Regions from separate parts of the Homo sapiens genome. Here region 1 is linked to region 2. Evidence: fine-mapped expression QTL. A gene starts in region 2. The other region holds a variant in brackets. All regions are shown on one strand. Distances are from middle to middle. Region 1 overlaps PIP5K1A (phosphatidylinositol-4-phosphate 5-kinase type 1 alpha). Region 2 holds the start of RFX5 (regulatory factor X5).

Region 1 (4,390 bases), 120 kb after region 2:
GATTGACACCCTGGCTCTAAAAAAAAAATGGAAGAGAAAAAAAAGTCTGACCTATTGTGTATATTTGTATCAACAGGCTGGGCTGGGACCTGGCCCTCTATTGATATATACCCAGCAATGGACAAAAAGACAGAAAGACTGCGAGAGACATGGTTCCCTGTGGTAAGATAAGAATGGCTTTCATGGCCTTGTTACATATTTATACCTAACAGGGAAACCCAGTTTCTTCAGCTCAGTAAAATAGCAACCAATGCCAGATTTGTTCACTAATTTTTTTTTCTTTTGAGATGGAGTCTTGTTCTGTCACCAAGGCTAGTGCCACCAAGTGGCACAATTTGACCTCACTGCAACCTCCACCTCTCAGGTTCAAGCGATTCTCGTGCCTCAACATCCCGAGTAGCTGGGACCACAAGCGTGTGCCACCCAGCTAATTTTTGTATTTTTAGTAGAGACAGAGTTTCATCATGTTGGCCAGGTTGGTCTTGAACTCCTGGCCTAAAATGATCTGCCTGCCTCGGCTTCCCAAAGTGCTGGGATTACAGGCCTGGGGCACTGTGCCCAGCCAAAAAAAATCTCATTTAAACATTCATATACAAAAAGGAGACAATTTACCCTTTGAGAAATAAATCTAAAGTCTAAGCTGTATTATGTGCAAAAGCTTAGGAGATCAAGAAACAGGACAGTACATGGAGAGTAATTTCAAGGAGACTGAGTTCCCAGAGTAAGCTGCTGAGCTCCTGGAGTAAGATGAGACGGTTTCATCCAGACACACCTTTTTATATGTTGTCTCTCCTGAGGAATCAACACTTCTATGGCCTATTTTCTTGATGGGCATGCCAGAGGCATAAGGCACCTAGAAGAAGAGTCAAGATTATAATACAATTCCCATGTAAGACACCAAATAGCTACCACAATGGTACATCAAAACAAAATAAACTGAAACAACATATTCTTTCTAGATTAAAAACATTTTACAAAATCTTCAGATCTATCCCATGCAAATATACAGCTATAATGTTGGTTCCCAATGAATTAAGTGGCTAAAAGATCACAGAAGAAAACTCCAAGGGACACATATTTTCCCTTTGGTCCTCAGAAAGAAGACACAGAAAATAAAAGTGAGTATTTTTACTCTTTATTTTTTTGAAACAGAGTCTCGCTCTTGTTGCCCAGGCTGGAGTGCGGTGGCACAATCTCAGCTCACTGCAACCTCCACCTCCTCGGTTCAAGCAATTCTCTCGCCTCAGCCTCCCGAGCAGCTGGGATTATAGGTGCACACCACCACACCTGACTAATTTTTGTATTTTTAGTAGAGATGAGGTTTCACCATGTTGGCCAGGCTGATCTCAAATTGCTGACCTCAAGTGATCCACCTGCCTCAGCCTCCCAAAGTGCTGGGATTACAGGTGTGAGCCACCATGCCCGGCCAGAAAATAAGAGTACTTTTTTTTTTTTTTTTGAGACAGAGTTTCGCTTGTGTCGCCTGGGCTGGAGTGCAATGCCACGATCTCGGCTCACTGCAACCTCCACCTCCCGGGTTCAAGCGATTCTCCAGCCTCAGCCTCCCGAGTAGCTGAGATTACAGGAATGCACCACCACACCCAGCTAATTTTTTGTATTATTAGTAGAGATGGGGTTTCAACATGTTGACCAGGCTAGTCTCGAACTCCTGACCTCAGGTGATCCACTCGCCTTGGCCTCCCAAAGTGCTGGGATTATAGGTGTGAGGCACTGCACCCAACCAAAGGTGAGTATTTTTAAACAGTAGTAGAAACACAGCTCGGCGATGGCCGGGTGCGGTGGCTCACACCTGTAATACTAGCACTTTGGGAGGTGGAGGCAAG[T/C]GGATCACGAGGTCAGGAGTTCAAGACCAGCCTGGCCAAGATGTTGAAACCCTGTCTCTACTAAAAACACAAAAATTACCCAGGCGTGGTAGTAGGCACCTGTAATCCCAGCTACTCGGGAGGCTGAGGCAGAGAATTGCTTGAAACTGGGAGGTGGAGGTTGCAGTGAGCCGAGATCGCACCACTGCACTCCAGCCTGGGTGACAGAGCAAGACTCTGTCTCAAAAAAAAAAAAAAAGAAAAGAAACATAGCTGGGTGGTGTGGCATGCACCTGTAATCTCAGCTACTCAGAAGGCCAAGTGGGGAAGATCACTTGAGCCTAGGAGTTTGAGACCAGACTGGGCAACATGGCAAATCTCCATCTCCAACTAAAAATACAAAAAATTTGCCTGGCGTGGTGGCGTGCATCTCTAATCCCAGCTACTCAGGAGGCTGAGGCGGGAGAATCACTTGAATCCAGGAGGCAGAGGTTGCAGTGAGCCAAGATCATGCCACTGCACTCCAGCCTGGGCGACAGAGCGTGACTCTGTCTCAAAAAAAAAAAGAAAAAAGAAAAGAGGCCAGGCGCAGTGGCTCACACCTGTAATCCCAGCACATTGGGAGGCCAAGGCGGGTGGATCACCTGAGGTCAGGAGTTCAAAACCAGTCTGGTCAACAGGGTGAAACCCTGCCTCTACTAAAAATACAAAAATTAGGCGGGCATGGTGGCGTGCACCTGTAATCCCAGCTGCTTGGGAGGCTGAGGCAGGAGAACTGCCTGAACCTGGGAGGCAGAGGACATAGTGAGCCAAGATCGAGCCACTGTACTCCATACTGGGCAACAGAGCAAGACTTCATCTCAAAAAAAAAAAAGGCAAGAAGGGAGGAGTAAACCAGTATAGCAGTCTAGAAAGTTATCCCCAAGAGCCAAAATGCCAGAGCAACAGACATGAAGTTACTCTTCATAACATCAATACTCATTAAGTTTATAAGCCAGAAGGCTGAGAGACTAGTGGAAACAGGGTATCACAGTTTTTTTTTGAGACAGGGTGTCTCTGTCACCCAGGCTAGAGGGCAGTGGTGTGATAATGGCTCACTGCAGCCTCAACCTCCTGGGCTCAAGCAATCCCGAGTAGCTGGGACTATGGTGTGCACCTGGCTAATGTTTTATTTTTTTGTAGAACCAGGGTCTCACTATGTTGCACAGGCCTGTCTCGATCTCCTGGCCTCAAGCAATCCTCTCACCTTGGCCTCCCAAAGTGTTAGGATTACAAGCATGAGCAACCGTGACTGGCTGGATGTCCCAATCTTAAGACCTGATATTCAAGTTCTATTCTTTTAGCCAAGGCCCTTAGTACCAGAAAACTCTCAGTATATCACCTGACAGATGCTGGAAGATGTTCTGAGAGAAAGTTTGAAGTCCCAGGTCAAAAGGGCCTGCATTCTGAGGCCCCTTTCACAAAACCCAGGGGAGAGGCAAGAAGTGAGAAGAGGGTTAGGAAATACACCATGGGAAGAAAGTTGAGCAAAATGGCGATATTCTGGACAAAAAAGAGAAACTTGTGAAACTAACAGCTTCTGCATGGCTAAAAGTTCTTCATATTCATCGAAGGTATGCAATCAGGAGGCCATAACAGCAAAACAAAGAAAGTGAGCTTTAGTGTCAGACTGCCTGGGTTTGAATTTGAATCCCAGCTTTACTAATCCCACTTAGTAACTATGCAATCCTCACTTTCTTCATCTGTAAAACAGATAACAGTATTTGCCTCACTGTAGTTGTTTGAAGGATTAAATAAGAATATCTTAAAGGGCACTTAGGTACAGTATTTACTTTTTGGTATATATTGCATTTGGTACATTAAAAATGCTCAATAAATGTGAGATATTGTTAATATTTAAAATAAACTACAATAAAAGATGAGTTGCATAATTTCTAGCCTACCAATGAGATGTAAGAATCCTGTCTAGCTTCCAAGACCTAAGTAGAGAAAAAATAAAAATGTCATAAACAGGTTCCTTCTATCCCAGAATTAAGGTTTTAGTAACCATTGTATCAGTATGAAACTCACCTCAGATGCCATGGGTCTCTTGATTCCAGATGCTGCTAGGGGGGAAAAAAAAACAATCATAAGAGTGTATCACACACTCACATCTCTGTCAAGCATACTGAAACCATCAGAGTTTGAGTCAAACTAAACATAAGTATAAACTCCTGCCTCTTGCTCAGTAATACCAGATCCTTTTGGATAGCAACTGTGTATGTCCCTCTCTCCTTCTCCATACTCACATAGGCCTCGTGCATATTCCATTTTTATTCTAGACCCCTTTCTTATTCAAATATCCATATTTTCTCTGGGAAATATAACTTTTTCTTTTTTTTTGAGATGGAGTCTCACTCTATCGCCCAGGCTGGAGTGCAGTGGCATGACCTCAGCTCACTGCAAGTGATTCTCCTGCTCAGCCTCCTGAGTAGCAGGGATTACAGGCGCCTCCTACCACATTCAGCTAATTTTTGTGTTTTTAGTGGAGGCGGGATTTCACCATGATGGCTGGGCTGGTCTTGAAC
Region 2 (4,387 bases):
TTTTGTTTTGTTTTTTGTTTTTTGTTTTTAGTAGAGACGGGGTTTCTCCATGTTGGTCAGGCTGGTCTCAAACTGACCTCAGGTGATCTGCCCACCTCAGCCTCCCAAAGTGCTGGGATTATAGGCATGAGCCACCACACCAGCCGGCTTTTTTTTTGTTTTTTGTTTGTTTGTTTGTTTTGAGACAGGGTCTTACTCTGTCACCCAGGCTGCACGACAGAGTGGTGCAATCATAGCTCACTGCAGCCTCGAACTCATGGGTAATAGTGATCCTCCTGCTTCAGCCTCCCAAGTTGCTGGAACCACAGGCATGTACCACCACACCTGGCTGTGTGTGGTGTGTGTGTGTGTGTGTGTGTGTGTGTGTGTGTGTGTGTGTGTGTGTGTTTAGAGAGAGACAGAGTCTCACTTTGTTGCCCAGGCTGGTCTCAAACTCCTGGCCCCAAGCAATCCTCTTGCCTTTGCCTCCCAAAGTATTGAGATTATAGGCATGAGCCATCATGTCCAGCCCGTTATACCCATATTTATTTATGAGTATCTGCAAATATGTATACATGCAGTCTAAGGCAGTGCTCAAAACAATCAGCTTTGAGGCAGACTGCCTGCCTTTGGATCCTGATTCTAGCACTTTCTACATATATGACTAAGGACAAGTCCCTTCACCTCTCCACATTGGTTTCCTCATCTGTAAAATGGAGACAGTAACAGTACCTACTTCAGAGAGTTGCTGTGAGCATTACACGAGGTGTTTAGCATTTGGTATGGTGTCTGATACCTAATAAACACCAAATAAATTTTTGTTTGTTTTTGTTTGAGACGGAGTTTCGCTCTTGTTGCCAGGCTGTAGTGTAATGGCACAATCCTCCGCCTCCCCAGTTCAAGTGATTCTCCTGCCTCAGCCTCCCGAGTAGCTGGGATTACAGGCATGCGCCACCACGCCCGGCTAATCTTGTATTTTTAGTAGAGACGGGGTTTCTTCATGTTGGTCAAGCTGGTCTCGAACTCCCAACCTTAGGTGATCCGCCCACCTCAGCCTCCCAAAGTTTTGGGATTACAGGCGTGAGCCACCGCGCCTGGCCTAATAAACACCAAATAAATTTTAGCTGTTATTAGAAAACCTGGCCAGGTGCAGTGGCTCACACCTGTAATCCCAGCACTTTGGGAGGCCAAGGCAGGTGGATCACCTGAAGTCAGGAGTTTGAGACCAGCCTGACCAACATGGTGAAACTCCGTCTCTACTAAAAACACAAAAATTATCTGGGCGTGGTGATGCACGTCTGTAAACCCAGTTACTCGGGAGGGTGAGGCAGGAGAATCGCTTGAACCCAGGAGGCGGAGGTTGCAGTGAGCCAAGATCGTGCCATTGCACTCCAGCCTGGGCAACAGAGCGAGACTCCGTCTCAAAGAAAAAAAAAAAAGAAAGAAAGAAAGAAAAAAGAAAACCTCTTGCCAATATATCCTTATTGCCCCAACTCCACAATCTCCTGGGTTCCCCCAGCACTCATAGAAGCTGATAATAGGGAAAGGTAGGCTGTAAAGGGCAATGGTGATGAGCTCAGGCAGCACTACTGTCTTCTTTACAAAAGCACATTAATGATGAGCCTGGAGAACATATTAGATGTCAGGATGGCAAATACAGTTTTGGTTGTAACATGACCGCTGCGCAAAACAAAATACATCCATGTAAGAGGCTTTCAACCTGGAGTCCATGACCTCTCTGAAATTAGATGCAAAACTTGGTCTCTGTGTGCATTTTTCATGGTAGAGGGTCCATTGCTTTTGTCTGATTCATAACCTTAAAATGTCTTAAGTAAGAGGGTTAAGAACCCATGACCTATTCAGTACAATGTTCCCTGAGTGTAAAAAGTTCCTGTGGCATCCAGCACCCCCGTGGGAGTCCATCAAAATTCCAGGGTTCACCGACTGCAGAACTATGGGGATGCAAATGCATTTGCAACTCTTTGGAAGTAAAGTACACACGGGAAACCAAGAAATACTAAGAGGGAAAAAGCATTTTAGTTTAATGGGTACAACTGCTGAGGTTTTGAGGCCTCCATCAAGAAGGAAAAGAGAGCCCAGATTGCAGGTCTGTTGCGAGTAAGTGTGTCTGCAGGTTGTATTAGGCATGTGGTGATGGTGATGGGGGGTTATAGGAGCTTACAGTGAACTTCCATCACTCCTACCCATCATTGTCTAGTTATTTTATCATCCATTGATTCTTCTCTTCCGGCAGCTCTGAGGACCGTAGACTAAACTGAAACACAAAAGGGGAGGGCAAAAGAAAAGACAGTTCCAAAGGGAGCCGAGCGCCCGTTCTTTCATCCTGCGGTCCCTTTAAGAGAAGAACCTCTTGGGACCTGCAGTCCCAACCGACCCCAGTTTTAACCGAAACCCAACCCGGACTTCCCCCTCTTGACTCAAATAAGACCAACTTTGGATTTTCCCTCCCCTATTGACCAATCAGATTCTGTTACCAGGCAGACTTCAGCGGCCGCCGGTACGAGCCCGGCGCCTTCTGTCTCCGGGTGGCAGCAGTGACCAATGACAGAGCAGGCCGCCCGTGTATCTAGGCAGATCGCGGCTGTTACAACCATTCAGAAAAAGGAAAATAAAGCAACGCACGAGCCGGCTGGGCCAGGACCTTGGGGCTGGGCTGGAGTGAAGGTGGCTACGAGGTAGTTTCTCTTTCTCCCTTACCTTTATTGTTGCTTGTGTTGGAAGGCGACTGTTCAGAGGTAGGGAGGGGCAAGATGAGTTGGGAGGAGAGCAGAAAAAGATTGTAGCTGTATTTTCAACAGCTTCTTCACCCATGTGCACGTGCCCGGAATCTGGGACCCCATTCCCCTGCCGGGTTTCTGACGCCCAGCGCATGAGTTCCGCTACCCCGCCCCACCCCCGCTCCACTTTGCAGAAACCGGGGATTGAATGGAGGGGGAAGGGAAGGAGGTGGGGGCGCGCCTCAGGATGGGCTGTTGTGGGAGATGACGTAGGGGCCGGCGACGTGGGGAGGGGGAGCAGCGGGGGAAGTCGTGGCGAGATTAAGTAATGAGAACTTGGGCCCAGTTTTTTTTCCAAGCCTAGAAGGGCAGAATATGTTCGTATCCTTTCTGACCTCCCAGGCATATGCAATGGTGAGGAGTATTTTTGAGAATTAGAGAACTTTGTTTTGTGGCTGTTATTGTTGTTTTTGAGGGGGAGGAGGGCAGTATGGGGTCAGAGGCAGAAATGAAAATTTCTTGCTAACATGGATTCCCAATCCCCCTATCTCTTCCTTTACAGTTTTCCAGATTTAGGAGACTTCAGAAAGGTGGGGCAGATAGAATGGAGATGGCAAAGATCTCTTTGGGCATATATGGGCCTGGCGAAGTAATGGAATAATTTCTAATTTTCGGAGAAGGCAAGTGGTGAGAAAAAGACCACCGGGGAAATTCGGAGGCTTTGTTTCTGTTTCTCTGCCTTTCTGGGTAAAGAGATGAGGAGTGCCCTGGGGCCTTCTGGGGAAGGGAAGGCCAGTGTGAGTTACATCTTTATGCCTGTCCCTCTCAATTCTAGCCCTCATGCCGGGATGGCAGAAGATGAGCCTGATGCTAAGAGCCCCAAGACTGGGGGAAGGGCCCCCCCAGGTGGTGCTGAGGCTGGGGAACCTACCACCCTTCTTCAGAGGCTCCGAGGTACCATTTCGTAAGTACTCATCACATCTCCAAGTCCTGTCCAAGACCTGAGTATAGATCCCTGCAGCACTTCACTTTGGCTGTAGATGAACTGCCTCTCAGCAAGGGCATGGGAGCAGAGGGAGATTTTTGGCCATGGTAGCAATTCTTGAGCACCTGCTGGGCATTTCAGTCCTTTTCCCTCCCTAGCAGTCAGATAAAGAGACAGGGAAAATCTTGTGTGTGACCTCCAGCTTTCTCCTCTTCCCCACAGCAAGGCCGTGCAGAACAAAGTAGAGGGGATCCTGGTAAGTGTGTTGGGGAAGAGGGCAAGAGAGGGATGGAAATGCTGAGGGAGGAGGATGTGAGGATGATGGGCATCAACAAAACATTGATGTGGGAGAGGTAGGGTCCTCTGCCTTGTCAGAAGATAGTTGGCTTTGCAAACTTGCTGCCAGTTTGACTTTGTGCCTCTCACTTGATCTCTGTGAGCACTTGCATAGAAGCCCAGCAGAGATGAAGTCAGAGCTGATCCCCTCTACTTCCCTCCTCTCCATGGTAGCCTATAGGGCTCCTCAGAGCACCTAGCATCAAATAATTTCTTTCTTTTTTTTTTTTTTTTTTGAGATGGAGTCTCACTCTGTCGCCTAGGCTGGAGTGCAGTGGCGCAATCTCGGCTCACTGCAAGCTCCGCCTCCCAGGTTCACGCCATTCTCCTGCCTCAGCCTCCCAAGTAG

Evidence for each region. PIP is the estimated chance that this variant, and not a neighbour inherited with it, causes the effect. A credible set is the group of variants that fine-mapping cannot tell apart.
Region 1: its variant is the best candidate, but not a certain one, in a credible set for the expression of RFX5 in whole blood (INTERVAL, PIP 0.51).

Annotation. Positions count from the first base shown.
Region 1 is chr1:151,223,783-151,228,172 of GRCh38, reverse strand. It overlaps PIP5K1A (phosphatidylinositol-4-phosphate 5-kinase type 1 alpha), which reads right to left. Exons shown (of 16, transcript NM_001135638.2): 2 at 3,894-3,928; 3 at 3,767-3,802; 4 at 773-853. Among named protein-coding and RNA genes, the nearest start is that of PIP5K1A, 27 kb to the right of the region's middle. The variant T/C (reference allele first, on the strand shown) is at 1,845.
Region 2 is chr1:151,345,499-151,349,885 of GRCh38, reverse strand. It overlaps RFX5 (regulatory factor X5), which reads left to right and starts at 2,634. Exons shown (of 11, transcript NM_001025603.2): 1 at 2,634-2,675; 2 at 3,280-3,397; 3 at 3,553-3,681; 4 at 3,925-3,958. The coding sequence starts at 3,566. RFX5-AS1 (RFX5 antisense RNA 1) reads right to left here and starts at 2,876. Exons shown (of 2, transcript NR_131972.1): 1 at 2,698-2,876; 2 at 1,995-2,254. RefSeq lists enhancers at 2,220-2,569, 2,536-3,118, 2,173-3,372, 3,712-3,801.